2 separate regions of the Homo sapiens genome follow, and region 2 is linked to region 1. The links come from fine-mapping of genetic effects on gene expression. A gene starts in region 1. The other region holds a variant in brackets. All regions are shown on one strand. Distances are between the middles of the regions. Region 1 holds the start of LINC03007 (long intergenic non-protein coding RNA 3007). Region 2 has its middle 64 kb from the start of LINC03007.

Region 1 (9,076 bases):
GTTTTGTTAGGGATGGCAGTTCCCACTGGAAGGTGTGTGTGTGTTGCATTATATGTTTTGGATCAAAAAAATTTTTTTCTGAAGTAGCTTTCAACTAACTTTGCATAAATTGAGAAAATTTAAATTGCACCTAAAAGAGAATATTAGAAACTATTAGAATAAGAGGAATATTAAAAAATATTAAAATATTAATGGTAGCAGTAGTTGTAGTAGTAATCATGGTAGTAGGGTGACCAATTTTTCCGGTATGCACAGGACCATCTCAGTTACACAGCAGAAAGCCCCACATTTCAGGGTCTCTGTCCAACCCATCCCAGACAAGTTGGGACAGTTGATCACTCTAAGTGATAGAATGATATTAATAATTGTTATTATTTTTATTTTTATTTTTATTCTTATCAGAATGGCTAGAGGGGAATCTGACAGAATTGTATGGTACTTCAATCTCAAAGCCACCATCTTGATGTTGCCACTGACTGCCTAAATTGGGTTATTTGGTGGCAAGTTATCAGCGTCCAATGAAGCTGGTCCTCAAGGTTGTCATCCTTCCCCAGTGGCCATGTTCCTTCTCCCCATCTGGACTTTCAGCATCAATCTACTCAAGTGACCACCAAATATCGCCAAACCCAGTTGAATGCCTCATTGGGCCTGGTCCTCTCTCAGCAACATCTGTTCCCCTCTGAGTGTAGGGAACTCTTGGGGCTATCCTGAGCAATAATCTCTACTCTGGGTTCTTAATTCATCCCCAGGGGTCTCTCCAGGAGCTCAAGGTTTCTCTACTTGCAGATGGCCCTAAACACCTCTGGAGTTTCTGTTGTCTCGAAAAGAGCAAGAGGGACTATAAATACTATGTGTATTAGGAAGAGGAAAGCAAATGGGGTTGGGAATGCCGAAAGAGTTGGGACTGGAAATGTATTCTGAAGGTATGGTAAGGTTTAGATAGGAACAAGCAAGAGGAAATGCATTTCAAGTGGGGGAAAACACAGGAACAAAGAACTAAAGGGCATTAACAAATGTCTGGGGACTGGGAGGCAGACATGCCTCAAGGAGAGGATGAGGGAGGTGGAGATTAATGGAGAAGGAAAGATCTATACTCTTTATTCAGTAGACCAGTGTTTCTCAAACAGGACTGATTTTTCCCTCCAGGGAACATTTGGCAATGCCCAAAAACATTTTTGGTTGTCATGACTCAGTGGGGATGTAATTTGGTCTGAATGTTTATGTCCCCCCAAAATTCTTATGTTGAAATCCTCACCTCCCTACAAGATGATGGTATTAGGAGGTGGAGGCTTTGGGGGTGATTAGGTCATGAAGGTGGAGCTCTCACAAATAAGATTAGGGCCCTTATGAAAGAGACCTGAGAGACTTCTCACTCCTTCCACCCTCTGGGGTTAGAGTTAGAAGTTGGCTGTCTGTGAGGAAGTGGGTCCTCAAGAGACACCAAATCTACTGGCACCTTGATATGGGACCTCCCAGCCTCTAGAACCATGAGAAATAAATTTCTGTTGCTTATAAACCACCCAATCAATGACATCAATGTCAATAGCACCAAGGTTGAGAAACCTTGCAATAGACAATGGGGAGGCACAGGAGGTTTTTGAGCAGGAAAATGACAAAATGATGTCAATGCCGATAGCTTCATAAAGCTGAGAGGAAATTAGCTAGCACAAGAACATCTCTCTTTATGCAATGGAGCATTTCCTAAAAAGCTTTGTGTTTTTTGTGTGTTTTTCTTTAAAAAAATCAATATTTTAGAAATTCAATTTTATTTTAAATGTACTAGAGCAGCTACTAGACAAATCTAGGGATGAATACACTCCTAGAAAGTGAAGAATCTTGCCAACGCAAGCATCATTCCTGTCTCATTCTGATATATCCAAATGGCTGTACTTTAGTGTCTCTCAAAGTGGGTTACACCTAAGTCTCTTCCAGACACCGGAGGACAATGCAGGCTTCCCCCCAAAGAATGGAAGATGAGAAGCCAGATTCCCTGGTTCCTACCCACTGTGTGACCCAGAGCAGCTCTATATTAGATCATTAGCTGCTTCCAGGATCATCATTTCTTTTTCTCCATGATTCATTGACTCTTAAATGCAACCATTTCTTCACCCTGTCATTGTGGAGCACATAATCCAAAATTTTATTGAAATCAAGAGATGTTTTCCTTGCTATTATATTGGGAGCAGAATACGATTCCTTTGAACACTTCCAAAGTTCATTTTTGTTTCTCAGTGACTGCTTTCAAGTTTTCAAACAAGAAAGGATTTTGTTTTTCTCTGGCTAAAGCTTATTTTTACCCAGCCTTGGTTTTCTTTCCTTTCCTTTAAAAATCCTCAGCACATCTAAGTACACTAAATATTTATGAATGTAATTTATGAGCTTTGGCCGTTTACTCCTTGCCAAAACTAAAAAGTATGTCTGTGTGTGGCCTGAAAAATCCCAGCTATGACAAAACCAAAACAGAGAAATAAGCAACTACTTCACATAAAAAAAGAGAAAAAGAGGTCAAACTTCACAAAAGTCCAGAAATTACTCACTTGACATATTCAGACTGGCACAAAGGAAAATAAATAATATTACATCTCCTCCAAGAACCTTGTCCTGTATGTCCTGCCTCAGATGTCCTGCAGTAAACATTTATTGAGAGCATCAGGAGGGAAAATGTCCCAGGCATCTGAAAGACAGAGGCCTGCAGCTTGCTGGGCAGCTAGGGCCCAGGGTGCTGCCCACCTCAGCCCTGTCCCCCAAAGCCTGTGTCAGCTGCGTATACTGAGCACTTAACTGTGCAGGAAGGGAAGTCAGCAGATCTCTAATGAATTCCTGATCTGACTCCAATCCCTCTCTTCCTTGAACACATTTCTTTGGAGAATCAAAACCCAACATCTGGAATTTGGCTTTTCACTGTCACAGGATGTCTCCAATGCTGGCTCTTGTTTCTGGAGTTACATAATTTCTCCTAAGCAGCTTTTTTCTCACTTCAAAAAGAAAGTGAGAGAGATTGCAGAGGAAATGCCTATGATATTAAAAAGTCATAAGCACTCATCTGTGATAACAAAAAAGCAGTGGTCCTGGACACACATAGGTTCTGATAGTTAACGACGAACTTGAGGGAATGAGGCCTGGTGGAACTGACCATAAATGAACAGAAATAAAGAGTGTGAGGAAAAGAGGTAAATGCCTCATGATGTGCAAACATTGTGGCAGTGGTTTAAACATCTCAGGAAGGAATTGAAGAATCATTGGTTTGATAGGCATCTGGTTAGCTCAGACCATCTCATCAAGATAATCTTATAAACCTTCAATCAACGGTTGGCTTAAAGTCTTTAAGCCTTGCCACTAGACACCTCCTGCATACTGCAGAAGGGCCACCTTGGAAGCGCATACTGCAGTGTTCAAGAAAGAACCTGAGGCAATTACAGACACCTGTCTATAGCAGCCAGACCCCAGACCAGCCCACAGCTTTCACTGGGCAGACCTTGGCTTTTCACCCAAGATTCCACTGGCCCCACTGAGTGGAAATGAGCTTTGTAAACCACTGCTTGTTCTCTTGAAAGAGGCAGTTGACCTAATGGCTGATTATTTTCCTGAAATGGCCCCTTGAACTGGAGTTCCATTCTCCCTATTAAAGGAGAACAGGAATAAATACAATCCAAGAATCATTATAAACAGAGTTTTACTCTCCTCCTGTTGAAACTTCTACCACAGCTCTAAAGTGCCTCAGTGCAGAAGATTTAAGAAAAAAAATAGGTCCATTCTTAAATGCTCAAGGATTTTAATCTCAAAATGTATGTAAGTTCTCTGCCTAACCCAGAAATGAGAGCCAAGAGCAGCTGTGTGTGTGTGTTTGTGTGTGAGCATGAGTGGTGTTGGGTGAGTGTGATGACATTGTTGAATATTTTATCCTCTTCCAAGAAACCAGTATTGGTAAGTAGATTAGATTGAATTTCTCTGGAATCTCAAGATGTCTCTCCATTCAGAGTGCTTAAACATAAGAAAGGTTCTAAAGTTGTCATAAAGTCATCAACTTTAAAACTGAACACTGTGTGCCTGGTGCTTGGGATTCAATAGTTAACAGGTATGGTCTCTCCTCAGGAAGCCTATGGTCTAACAGGAGATCTAGATGATGAAATAGGCAATCACCATTTAGGGCAATAAGTGTCCATTCACGTCACAATGGGAAGTTTGAGACTCCCTGGAAGCATATATGAGAGTCACTTAACTCAGTCTTTGGAAGTCAAGCAAGGCATCATGGAAGAAATGACATCTAAGCTGAGATCAGAGAAGCAAGGCAAAAGTTTAAAAGAGAAAGGACAGAACATCAAGGCAGAGGCAATCTTAATTGCAAAGCCCCAGAAAGGAAAGTGCATGGCTTTTGGCTGAAATGTAATTAACAGGCGATAAACAAAGACAGATTTCATAAAGAGGGATCAACAAACCTTTCTGTAAAGGACAGACAGTAAGTAATTTAGGATTTATGGGTCATGCACTCTGTTGCAACTATTCAATTCTGCTGCTGTAACTAGAAAGCACCCATGGACAATATGTAAATGAATGTGTTTTCATAAAACTTTATTTACAAAAACAGGTTGTAGGTCAGACCCAGCTGACATCCTGACTCTGCTGGCACCTGAACCCTCACTGTTCTGTGGTCCCCAGGCCAGCAGCATCAGCATCACCTTGGCAGCTCATTAGAAAGGCAGACTCTCAGACTCTCCCTTCTGACCTATAATCTGAATTTTACATTCGAGAGATCCCCAGGTTGACAGAGCCCTGTTAAGGCATTTGGTCTCTGTCTTTGACACACTCATGTATGCATGTTTGAAAGATCCCTGTGGCTACAGTACTGCAAGTACACAACAGTGAGCAGCTCCTGAAATTTTGTCTCCCTCGTTGCCCAACTTGCCTCCCTTATACCTGGTCCTGGTGAGGAAAATGGACAGTAGAGGGCAAGACGGCAGGATGGTTTCTCTTTTCTCCCAGCCCCTGAAAGCCCACCCCTATCCCACCTCCCTTCACAACAAAGGCTGACCTTCAAAAACTACTGGAGGTAGTACTCATTACGCTTCCCAAAGGCTAACCGACTGGGTGTATTTCTAAGTCTCACTTGAAGCCATTCTTCTAGGGACCTCCTACCAGACCAGAGCTGGGCATCGTGTTTCTCTGCTGTCCATTAGGTCCTCCTTTGTTCCCATAGACATTCCATAGCACTCTGGGGGTCCAGTCTTCTGGGCCAGTTCCACCTCTAGAGGTATTTCTGGCCAAATGGGCTTGATGTCGGCTTCCAGACAAGCATGCAGGCAGCAGCTCTGAGCGTGAGCAGAATAAAGCCCCTTAATTAGGCAAGAGAGGGACTCAGCCAGCTGTGCACACTTGAGGGAAGACATCCATCAAAGAATGCATCTCCCTTCCCTACCTTTTATTTATGCTTTAGAAAATCCAATTAAAGCCGAGCCTGGCACTCTCCTAACTTTCAGCCATTTAACACATACAACAGAGTTGCTGGCCATGAATTTAAACACGCACATACACACACAGTCATGCGTGCACACAAAATAAACATGCACACATCCTGTTTCTTCCTTGTGGGCTCCCAGGACTTAGGGACTTTGGGTGTGCCTGTGGACGCTTAGCCAAAACGATGACCAAAGGTTGGTCAGAAAATGTCATTCAGCTGCTTTCGCTGGTTTCTCATGTCTTTTCCACTGCATCTGATGATTATATTTCATCCACATGCCTTTCCTGCTCATTTGGGCTTGTCCTTGGGGATGATTCACTGAGATTATGCTGATGTGAACAAACTCTGTGAACGTTTTTCCCTGCTGTTTCACTGGTTTAAGATTAGACTGCCACTTTATAGTCCAACCTTCACTTTGCTGGCAGTACCTTGATAACGTATGGCCCCAGGAAAGACACCCTGTGGAAATTACTGCAATTATCAGGCTTGGACAAAATGGACACTGGGAATTTCCTGGTGTGGGGCATGCTGAGCTCCTCATGTCTGTAAATGCCCCATGCCAGGTCAACTACTCTGTCACCTGAGTGCAGGAACTCAACACACATGCACTCAGTCACCTGAGCCCCCGAGAGTACCTTCTCACATCTAGAACCCTGTAAATGCTCTTTCTGTCCTACCAGTGTATTTGGTACATGACAAAGCTTAACATTTTTTAAATGGGATAAACCCCAGGCATAGTGTTGGGAACTTGGATTTTAGGGTCAGCCAACTTTAGTATGAATCCCCATTCTGCTTACTAGCTGAGTAACCTTGAACATGTGGCCTAACCTTCTCTATGACTCAGTTTCGCTATATTTTAAAATGAGGATAACGATAGTACCTGGCTCACAGGGTTATGGTGAGGGTTCTATGAGATCATGCACATGGAGGAGTTGGCAGAGTGAATGGAACATGGTAACACAAACAAATGTTAGCTATAATTCCCAGGGTTTATTATTGTTAAAGCCTTCCCTCCAGCTTTCGCTAATCCATGTGTGTCCCTTCTCTCAAAAGCTTTCCTAGCTAAACCCAGCCAGCCAGGACATGATTTTGGTTCTTGTTCGCCAGCACATTTAAATAGGGCTGCTAGTGGCTTTGCTTTTACTGGGTTTTCAAAAAATGTTTCCCATTTACATGTTTTATCTCCTCAAGCAAATTATAAATTTCTTAAGGGAGAGGACCTGATCTTGTTTTGCTATGACCCTCCCACACCCTAAGATATTTACCATAATGATTACATCTTAATCATTTTCCCCTTATAGTATCAATGTTTATTTTAGATTTGGGGATACATGTGCAGGTTTGTTACGTGGGTATATTGCATGATGCTGAGGATTGGGGTACAAATGTTCCCATCACCCAGGTAGTGAGCATAGTACCCAACAGTTTTTCAACCCGGGCTTCTCTCCCTCCCTCCTCCTTCTTGTAGTTCCCAGTGTCTATTGTTGCCATCTTTAACATCTTAATCTTTGATGAATAAATTTTATTTAAGAATATATAGCATAATGTGTATTACAAGTAACATGGATTTGGTTTGGTTTATCATCTGTGGTCCTGTGACCTGTGCACATGGAGAAGCACAGACTAAACAGAAATTTCCTTTTGTCATTAAAGTAGTCAGAATGCCAGCTCTGTAGCCTGACTTCCCAGTTTGAATTCAAGCTTTTCTCGTTACTAATCATGTGACTGGGGAAAGCTTCCTAACTCTCCCAGCCTTGGTTTACTTATCTGTAAAATGGGAATTTGGGTGAAGATTAAATGGGTTAGGGCAAGTTAGGTGCTCCAGAACATTGTAATTTATTATTGTTTATAAATAATTTGATATAAAATTAATACTACAAACACATTTGCAGAGAAGAATGGCATTAAATAGAGGAATAAACTATTTGATAAAAATTATACTATATTGACTTTTTAGCATAACCCATAATCACATGCCAAATAAATTGTGTAAATGATGCAATTGTTTTTCCCTTAACAACTTTTTTTTACATAAGTATATACAATCTTTATTTTCAATAAAGAAATAATATGAAAAGAAGAATCACAACACCCAAAAATCCCCCCCAAAATTTAGCTTTTCTGTAAGTGTGTGGTAGTGTTTCATCATGGTTTTGATTTGCCATTTCCCTAATAATTGACGATCTTAAGCATCATTTCAGGTACTTATATGCTCTCATTGAGTTAAATACATATTCAAATAAGTTGTCCATTTTTTAGAATTATTTTTTATTTTATTGAGTTTTGAGAGTTCTTTATATATTCTGGACACAGTTCCTTTGCTAGATATGTATTTTGCAACTATTTTCTCTCTGTGGCTTTTCACTTTCTGAACATGTTTGAAGAGCAGATTTTATTAAAAATTTTGATGATGTCCAATTAATCATTTTTAATGACTCTTCCTTGTGTACTAACAAATCTTTTCCCATCACAGGGTCATAACATTTTCTCTTTTTTTCCTAGTAAAGTGTATTAGTCTATTCTCACACTGCTATAAGGATATATCTGAGACTGGATTTATGAAGAAAAGAGGTTTAATTGGCGCACAGTTCCACAGACAGTACAGAAGGCGTGGATAGGAGGCCTCAGGAAACTTACAATCACGGCGGAAGGGGAAGGGGAAGCAAGCACGTCTTACTACGGCCAAGCAGAAGAGAGAGAGAGAGAGAGCGAAGGGGGAAGTGCTATACACTTTTAAACAACCAGATCTCACTCACTATCACGAGAACAGCAAGGAGGAAATCTGCCCCCATGATCCAGTCACTTCCCACCAGGCCCTTTCTCCAACATGTGGGGGTTACAATTCAAAATGAGACTTGGTGAGGTCACAGAGCCAGTGGGAGTCAAGGTTTGATTTTTTTATTTTTTGGCATATAGCTTTCTTTTCTTTTTTTTTTTTTTTTTTTTTTTTTGAGATGGAGTCTCGCTCTGCTGCCCAGGCTGGAGTCCAGTGGTGTGATCTCGGCTCACTGCAAGCTCCACCTCCTGGGTTCACGCCATTCTCCTGCCTCGGCCTCCCGAGTAGCTGGGACTACAGGCGCCAGCCACCATGCCCGGCTAATTTTTTGTATTTTTTAGTAGAGACGGGGTTTCACCCTCTTAGCCAGGATGGTCTCGATCTCCTGACCCCGTGATCCACCCTCCTCGTCCTCCCAAAGTGCTGGGATTACAGGCGTGAGCCACCATGCCCGGTCGGCATATAGCTTTCAAATTGTTCCAGCAACATTTGTTGAAAACATTGTTTGTTCTCCTTTGAATTATCTTGGCATCTTTGTGGAAAATCAATTGACAATATATGTGTAGGTCTATTTTTGGACTTTCTATTCTGTTCTGTTGATTTATCCCTCTAACTTTACATTAACACCATGTCGTCATGCTCAAATAGCTTTATAGTAGACTGTATCAGATGGTGTACAACTATTATGTGTCAATTTTTAAAAAGCTATTCTTGACCTGACATGATGGCTCATGCCTATAATCCCAGCACTTTAGGAGGCTGATGTGGGAGGATCACTTGAGGCCAGGAGATGGAGACCAGCCTGGGAAATATAGCAAGACCTCAATTCTAAAAAACAAAATTAG
Region 2 (9,076 bases), 65 kb after region 1:
GGATTATATCTGCCTGAACTGCCAAACCAAACTCTGAGAAGCAGATTCTCCAGAGAGTGACTCAGGCCCACATGATGTTTGTTGGGGATGATGTTTTCACTGGGAGGCGAAGTGTGCATTTGCTTATCTGGCCAAAGGCTACTCAACTTATGTGGCCAGCCCACCCCACAGCAAACGTGTACAAGGGTTCTTGTTTCTCCCTGCTCAGAGCTGCATTTTCTCTCTCTACAGCAGTCATTAGAATAAATAAAACCCATATAATCAACATGAGAGGAAGAGGACATATTTTTGTAATGCACGCGGGGGAGGAGGGTGGTTTTTAAAACACCAGGGACACCGCGAATGCCACAGTTATTATGTCAAGGCTCATGAGGTCAAAGTCAGTTAATAATTCCCGATTATTCTCTTAAAGATGACTAACACACAGCCCAATGCTAACAGTTTTCATATTTTAATGATCTTCCATAGAGTTTTCTAATTTATTCAACCTCAGCAGATTCCATTTCTTCATAAAAATAAAGTATTTTTCATCACAGAGGAATAACTTCAAGTTTTTCTTCAGGGATGAGAATCCAAAATCCTGACTCTGCCTGCCATGCTACTGAGCTGTCTCCATTTATCTCTCTGAAATTTTTTGGCTTACAGATTAAAGCATTAGAGGAAAAGAAACTATAAACATAAAAGAATAATAAAGATCATGATTTGTTTAATTTTTACATTCTTATTATTAAGACAGAATTTAGGAAGCAAAACTGCACTTTATCACTTTAAAATATACCCCCAAAATCACTACACTAAAGGCATTATAAAGGGTGACATTGTAAGAATATTTAATTGACATGATTTGGGAGGAAGGGCTGGCAGCACACAAGGAAGAATCGAATGTGAAAGAGAATTTGGTTAATTTTAAAATGTTATCCAAGTAATTACAGTCATTATACTTTCCTGCGGCGCAGCAAAGAAGTAAAAATATCAAGCTCTCCCGCAAATTTTCCAATATATACATACTGTTAAAACATACACATGTGCACACAAACACGTACAGTGAAACCAGATTTTGGAGTTTATCGCTTGCCAAGGTTCACCCCAGAGCAAATATTTACTGCGGAGTTACAAAATTTTCCTGAAGGAGAACCAAAATGGAAGCGTTTACATATGCTGCAAGTACTTTGTGTGCGCAGGGGCCACAAGAAAGATATAGTTTAATAAAAACATTTATGGATTTTGAAAGCAAACACAATCCAAGAGTCTTGCACATGTGGGAAAAGATGATATTCCAGCCTAACACGTTCTCTCTTGAAGATCTTTTGGCTGTTTGCAGTGAGCAAACCCCAGTTTCCTCTGGGGCCCCGCTAATCTATATTGTAAACCATTCTCAGGAAACAAATGAAAGAACCATCCGACACTGCCCTCGGAGACAGCGGCAGGGATGCGGCTCTGCTCTACAGGCAGACAGAAACTTCCCAGGATGGGCGAAGGTGGCTGCTGCATGAAGAACTGGGGTTCTCTAACCTAAACCTTCGCCACCTCCTCTTCCTATCAGGAGAATCTCTCTTAACTGATTTCCTCTGCATTCTCTCACCTCCCGGGCTACCTCCCACTTCACCATCGCAAAACGAACCCGATATTTGCAAAACTTAGGAAAAGACACACCGGCGTGCGGCCCACTGTTTCCATGCCTTTTGCCCCATGGCCTGAGAACCCACTGTATGCATGGCCTTAGAACCAAAGTTTTGCACTTCAAGTGAGCTTTGTTCACGTTCGCCCCATTTTGTTCTGCCATTAGGTCTTGCGGGTGCGCTAGCCTGCTCTTCATTAGTGCTTTTGTGCCTCATTCTTTATGAACCCCGGGCTGCATCCATCTACCTTAGCGCTAATGATCAAACGGGGGATCTTGAAATCACTCTGCGCAATTTACAAATCACACAAACTGGAAAAAGGAATTCACGCCAAATTGGACAAACTTTTGGAAAGGCCTTGTGGAGCCTTGCTCCTCTATCCTTGGGCTCTATTGCCCCCTGGTGGTTTCTCCGAGACAAACGCGGCCAGGGCTCAGCTCCGAGGCTCAGGTGTCCTGCCCTGCGGGCTGGAGCTGCTCTCTGGGACGCAGTGGGGCTGACTCGCGGGTGGGGAGGGAAGGAACCGGCAGTACGAAAATAAACGTGGAAGAAAAGGGAACTTGGGGACATTTGTCCGGCAAAAAGGGTTCAGGCTTCTCCACCTAAAACAAAAGAACATTAGAGCTGTACAAAAAAATGCGGAGATCCTAAAACAGCCCCCTCTTTCTACAGACGAGAAACTGAGGCACAGAGAGATGATGTGATTTGCCCAGTCACATCATCTGGTTGTTTATGGCTAATCTCACCAACCCTGGTCATGCTGCTTTTGGGGGATGACAGGGTTCGGGGCTCCAGGCGGCCGGGAAAGTGTGATGAGTTGGCCTTATTCTGTTGAAGACGCAAAGGAGTGATCAAATAAGGAAACCAGCAGCCTGGGAGATTTGTGTTCCAGGCCCCAGTGAACCCGTTACAGGGTGGGACTGGGTGGAGCAGCCTTCAGGCCGCCCCGGCCCCTCGTGGGAATGCGCCGCGCCCCCCGGACTCTGGAGCGGCCCGACCCTGCTTCCCAGGCCCCGGGCAGGCGGGCGGGCGAGACACAAAGCAGGCCCCGCGGGCGGTGCTCCGGGTTTCGCGAGGGCGGCGGTGCGCTTGATTGATGGATTCACGGCGTTTAACCCCCGCCGCCTCGCCGGAGGCGGCCGATCCAGCTGCGGCCGAGGGCCTAGGGTGGCCATGGGCCCGGCCCCCGCGTCCTCCGCGCCCCCGCCCCGGCTCGGGAGGGCTGCCCCCCGGGAGTGGAGAAAGGCTGATTTACAGCCGGCCGGCCGCACTCTTGCAAAATCACTGCGGCCGGGGAAACCCACTCCCAGGACTCAGCCCGGAAGAGGCCCTGAAGGGGAGCGGAGACTGGGCGCTGGGGTGGGGGCGGGGGCGCCGAGCCTCAACTTCCCGCGTCTGCTGGAAGCTTGCTCTGAGCGCCGGCTGCGGCGTTTTCCCGCCTTCTGCCCACGTTTTCGCCCGGGAGTGGGTTTCAGGAGAGCTGGGGACAGCGGCATCCCTCGCCCTGGGACCGTTGCCCCTGCGCCCGCCGCCCTGTGCCTGGGCCTTTGCACCCGGAGCGCCCCGCGCCCCAGCGCAGTCGTCCCCACGCGCCGGGATCGCCAAATTCCCACCTGGGGCCCGCCTTTACTGGGGGGCTGCAAAAGAGACTTAGAAGCAGAGATTCGGGAGGGGAGCTGATAGCTCCCGAGTCCTAAGCCACGCCTGGACAGCCCACAGGTCCCATCTCCATTTGTTTAAACACTTTTTGCCCCGTTTTCTGCAGGGCAGAAGACAAATATTAAGAGAGCAAGATTGTGCTTAGAAACTTAAGGTTCTCTTTTAAAAGACTCGTTCCTTCAGGTCTTCCTTCTTACCACCTAAGGGAAAAAAGTACCCCCTAAAATTCTTGCTTTACTTTTAGCAATTCTTACTTCAGTTTTACTATTGATACCCTCCGATCTTTTTCAAGAGGAAAAAAAAGCCAGATAGTGAAATAAAATAAGAAACGTATGGTTTCAACTTGAACTAACGAATCAGAAGTGTTGATTCTAAACTAAAAAGTGTTACTACTTTTTTTGCTTATATGTGCCTGGGTAGGATGAGTTTTCCTACAGCCTGCGAAGTTGGTCACTAGAAACAGGGGCTGGTGAAAATGTGCAGATTCTTGCCCTGCAGACACTAAGGATCTGGTGCTGGGCTAGAAAATTCACCCACAGTTAGGATGTCAGAGGGAGATATAAGTAAACGTCGGCACCCAACTCATTAGTTTCTGGCTAAATAAAAGTCAACCGACAGAGCACAAAACAACAGATCCAATGAATCCACCTTCTTGTAAAATGAGGGCTAATGGCTGTATTCTGAAAGATTTTTTTAGGTAGACTTATTTTTAAAGGCCGGTTGCAATTTTAAAATGCATAATTATAGGGTAGAGTAATCAAAAGTGAGTGTGCAATTATTCTGCTTGTATAAATGGGAGAAGAAGTCATGAAGTTTCCCAGCTAGAGAGCTGTCGACCTGTAAAATGTAAAAATGTACATCTAAAGCTGTGAAACTTCTCACTTGAGTACAGTATTTTCTTCTTTCCTCCCGTCTCCCTCTGCAAATACCGTAAGTTCTTATTCTGACCTTGATGTGGGGACAGCACGAACCCTTCTCTTCCTGATAAACCCAAACAGAAAAGCAGATATAAAAGGAGAGGCAGATGAGAAGTGGAGGTCTACACTTTCCAGGGTTCCACCCTCAAATCCCCCGCCGAGGTTGGCAAAACAAAGATTCTGCCCCCTACTACAGTGACTTGTGAGTGGAAAGAAAGTCTTGCCTATCTGTCATAGGGACCCCAAAATGAATTCCTAAAAAAGCAACGCTGCTCTAACAGCAACTGGATCGGAAAGCAGAGAAAGCAGAGATGCAACCTCGGCCCTGTGGCTCCGGCCAGGCTCTGCTCCAGTGAGACCACTCGCTGGGAAACTGAGTTTCCCCCTCGATTTCAGTTTAGTCCCTAAAAAGTTCGCCCGGCCCTGCAAACACCACGCTCAGAAACGCAGCGGCCTCTTACTCTTACCTTTTTAAAGCGTGCTTAAGGTGCTTACTTCGCTTAAGGAAATATTTTTGCAAACACTTTCACTGGATGAATATTTTACTCGCAAACTTTCCTGGGCAAAATCTCCGGAGGAAGTTTCACATTAAAGCAACAACCAACAAAGCTTATTTTTGTAATATGTGGCTCTCTAACAGTGCCAGTATGTTCTCACTTCATTTAGTTATAAAATATAAAAGTGTTTGGTTTTCAATTTTTCTAAATTACTTGCAGGGTACAAGGTGGGGGTGGAGATGGTGAGAAGGGGATCCTTATGCCATCTGGCGGTGCCATGTGGAACTTCGCTGAAGAAGCTAAATTTACTGACCATCTGTGCCTAGAGCGGGTTTCTCCAAGGAAAGGCTCTGTAAATCTCGTCCTTTTGAAATCTAGGGGAAAACAGCCTCCTTCACTGAGGATTAATTTAAAGAAAGGGGGAAATAGGAAAATTCCATGCGTTGGAAGTCCATTTAGATTTCTACATGAACCATCATATATGTGCACTACATAATTCTTATTTTTTTATTTTTAAAAAAGGGATAATTTATATTCCAGTGACAAGTTTGGGAAAGGCCAAGGCAAGCAATTGAGTTGAACATTATGTAGCGTTTATATAGACCTTGCAGACGTCTGTGCAATATCCACCAC[T/C]GAACACGTGAGGTCGTACTCAAGTCTCTCTGGCCCCTGGTAATGTGACTCCCTTCCTTTATTTGCATGAATCGCCTGGATTGGGTGTCAGGTTTTTAAAACGTCAAGGTTTACGCCTATTGTTGTCAACCAATCAGCATCCTACTTTGACGTGATTGGCTTCTACTGTAGGTGTCAATCATCCAAAATTTGCATACTACTCCTCAGGCCGCCGGGAGCCTGTCAGTCGGCTGTGGCAGCTGGAAGAGAAGGAATCGGACGGAGAAGAATGAAAAATCACTTTGCTTTCGCAAAGCGAAAGAAAAGTATTCTTTTCCTCATTATTTTTAAATAAATTTGATTGTATATTTACCTAATAAAATAAACATTCAATTAAACAAAAATAAGCAACTATCAAAGATTTGTTTACTAATTTTCGTAATGTTTACTGTTTCAATAAGTAGCCAAAGGAATATTAAAACACAAAAATATGAATGCTGATAATTTTATGTCATAAAGACCATTTTAAAACTAAAAGTGAACATGGGGTTTCTAAATAAAATTACCGTGGTAGCGTAAAAACACTGCTTTCAATACTTGGGCATGCTGAAAGTGCTGCATCCTAAGATAAAAAATACACCAAGGGGGGGATTTCAAAGAACATTATTTTGCTTTTAATAATCCTGTATTTCTGTCACTTTGCCCTTTTTATTTATTTACCGTGAACTCACAGACAGAATATTACTTGGAGTTTCTGAAATACTTGTGTTTGTACATTTCTCATCTTACACGTACCCACACACCCCAAAATAAAAAAACAAAGAAGAGGATCTCAGGGACTGAGAAGTCATTACCGGTTTTAAAATTCAGAATTCGTAAAACCGAAGCTCTAATTTGTCAGTTACAAAATTCTTCTAGAACCACTGTAATTTAGAATATGTGCAGAACTATAAGATGTTTATTATTTCTTTAAAATATATGTGAGTACAAACCAACAAGTTAACAGCTTATAATAGGAAAGCACTCTCCAGACTTCTGCCCATCTCCATCACGCCGCGGAAACTTGTCTGAAAGGAGAATTTGGATGCAACAGGGCAACGGAGCGACGTTTCTCCTCTGCACTAAGCCAGCCCTCGCCTCTGAAGAATTTTGTACTAGGCGTTCACTAGCACTGAGATGAACTGGAATTATTTCCACAGCATTAACCGAGTTAGGAAGTTTTTTTCAAACTTTGCATTTAACGGATTTTTTCCATCGGCATTTTATCTTTGCCACCATCGTTTTACTGGTTGCTGCATCTTTCTAGTTTTCTTTCCTTTTCTTTTTTTCTTGCTCTTATTCTACCTTTCTTTGCTTTCTCTCTCTCTTTTTTTTTTCTCCCAGTTAAGGATTGTCACAGTGTGCCGGGTGTCTTTGTAAGTTCGTCCCTCGTCTTCATGATTACAAGAGGCTGATATATGTGTACCTGTGCCTACAGGGGAACTGAACAGGGCTAAGTGAGTGCTGAGAGGAGCTGGGGGAGAGATGTGTGCTGCAGATGAAGGTACGGCTGGGATGTGAAGCTAATTTAGTGTGTGCTTTACAAGGAATGCACAAATCAACACAGCGCTCAAATTAAATCTCTTCTTGAGGGGCTTAAGTATCTTCTTCAGGAAGAGTAAAGCATGTCTTCTAGTTCTACTTCCTTCCCGGTTAGCCAGCTGCTGGAGAGCCCCCTCAGTAAATTCCTTCCAGATCGACCTCAGTGTGGGTGAGAGCGCAGTCTGTGACCACCAGCGCTTCTGACTCAGCGGAAAACGCCGGCAAACAGGACTACACCTCACCGCGGCGGCAAAAGCGGCCTCAGCTCCAGCACTCACAGCCACCACTTTCACCGTCGCCCCGCCACCACCACCTTCGCTGCCTCAACCCTGAGAGAGACACACACACACACACACACACACACACACACACACACACGCACGCACGCACGCGCGCGCGCACAAACACCTCTCCCTGCTGTCAATCATACATGCGCGCCATAGCGCGCATGCGCACTGGTGGACTCCAGCCCCCACCGATCCTACGCCCTGTCTCTGCGTCTGGGACCAGACGCACCAATAAGAGAGCGGATTCGGGGGCGGGCCACAAGGAAGTAGCCAATGAGAGCGCGGTTGGAAGCCAGGGCTAGAGAGGAGTAAATCCTTCTGTCGTCCCCGTTCTGCCGCCCCCGCGATGATTTATGCGTCCTTTTTATTATTTGTAACACTTTGGGAAGTTATTAAAAGGAAGATCTACTGCTTCCTCCTTTTGGGTTAAACTGGATGGCAATGTTTGTCACTGGCCCTTATTAGAGAAGAGTGTGGCGAGGTGGAGGGCCGTTGGACGCTGGGTTTGTTTGTGTGGGTCTTGTTTTTTATTACAAGACACATTATCCTTTTAATTACAAGCTGTAGACAGGGCCAACTTCGAAGGTCTTCGTGGCGGAGTGATCTTGGATCATTCAGGGGGCTGAAACCCGATGCCTTCTGACTTTCGCGTCCGTACTCTTGGCGTTGGGAGGAGCCTCTCAGGAAGGTGTTGCAACCTTTGGTTGTACCAGAAGGAAATAAGCAAACTCCCATCACCCCCACCCCCATTCCCCGCCCTAACACGGAGTAAACTTCGGCCTTTTTCCGCTTGGATGCTCATTAAGAGTTAGTTGACTTTGTAGCGGATGCAATAAAATTTGGATGGTTTCAGGCCCCCAAACAATCCTGGTTTCTGTTTTCCTCTCTCCCTAGGCACACCCCCAAGGAAATTGCCTTTTCAGCAGGCGCCTGCGGGAAAGAACCGCAGGAGACAGATTCCCTTTAGAGATCTGCATGGGGAGGAGGGAGATATGGAAATAAAGAGGGCCAAGGTAAGAGGACGGAGAGGCCATAGAGGACTTGCATGTTTGGGTGTGAGTTTTCTGGCCAACTAGGGGGAAAATCCACAAACCTGAGGTATCTGGTGGATGCGCTGAAAAATTAGCTCTCACCTGCAGAGTTACTCAACCCTCGTGCGCTTCTGCTCTGCCGGGAAGGGCCAGTCTCCGAGGGCGGAATAAGTATGGGTATTGAAAGGCAAGTAGGAAACAGCAAAAGAAAAGAACAGATACAAATTTTCTACTCCCGACCTCCAAACCAAAATCGCACTTTCAAACGTAAAACGCAATTCCAAGAAGACTGGGATGTAGGGAGTATGCGATGCCTCTGTTCAATAGGTCACTGTCAGGAACTTCAGTTTCTGGTGTTCAGATATTTGTATTTGAAATTAAGAAAATCAACGCAGGAGGGGTTGCTGGAGGATAAAGTGGGGTGACGAGAGACCGAAGGAGGGGGAGGAGGAGAGGGGTAGAAGGAACCAAGAACCATCTGATGGCAGAACTGGGCTGAAGGAAAACAAAACCGTGAACTTCAAAGCTCAGGCCTAATCTCCCTCAGGTTAATTTCTGCTTCCTAAAAAGTTTGATCAGGGTCATAAATCACTCGGTCCACCCTTGCCGGTCCTGCCTGGTTCCCCAAGGTTCTCTCCCCGCAGCCCGCTGCAGGGGCGCAGGGTGAGTCTCCAGCCCAAGACCGTCTGAGGCTTCCCGGGGCAGGAGGGCTCCCGGGGCTGAGTGGGCGCACGGATGCGCGAGAATCCGCGTGCGGGGGAAGCGGGGAGGCGAGGGTCTAGGGAAGGTGCTGGCAGTGTTGCGGGCCAGACTGTGGAGAGATCCCGTGCAGATGCAGTTTCCATTCCGTCCGGCCTCAAAAAAAAAAAAAAA

Evidence for each region. PIP is the estimated chance that this variant, and not a neighbour inherited with it, causes the effect.
Region 2: its variant is fine-mapped to the expression of LINC03007 in lung (TOPMed, PIP 0.97).

Annotation. Positions count from the first base shown.
Region 1 is chr7:25,784,724-25,793,799 of GRCh38, forward strand. It overlaps LINC03007 (long intergenic non-protein coding RNA 3007), which reads right to left and starts at 5,396. Exons shown (of 5, transcript NR_157808.1): 1 at 5,030-5,396.
Region 2 is chr7:25,849,776-25,858,851 of GRCh38, forward strand. No RefSeq gene overlaps it. Among named protein-coding and RNA genes, the nearest start is that of LINC03007, 64 kb to the left of the region's middle. RefSeq lists a silencer at 2,024-2,073 and an enhancer at 6,963-7,042. The variant T/C (reference allele first, on the strand shown) is at 5,326.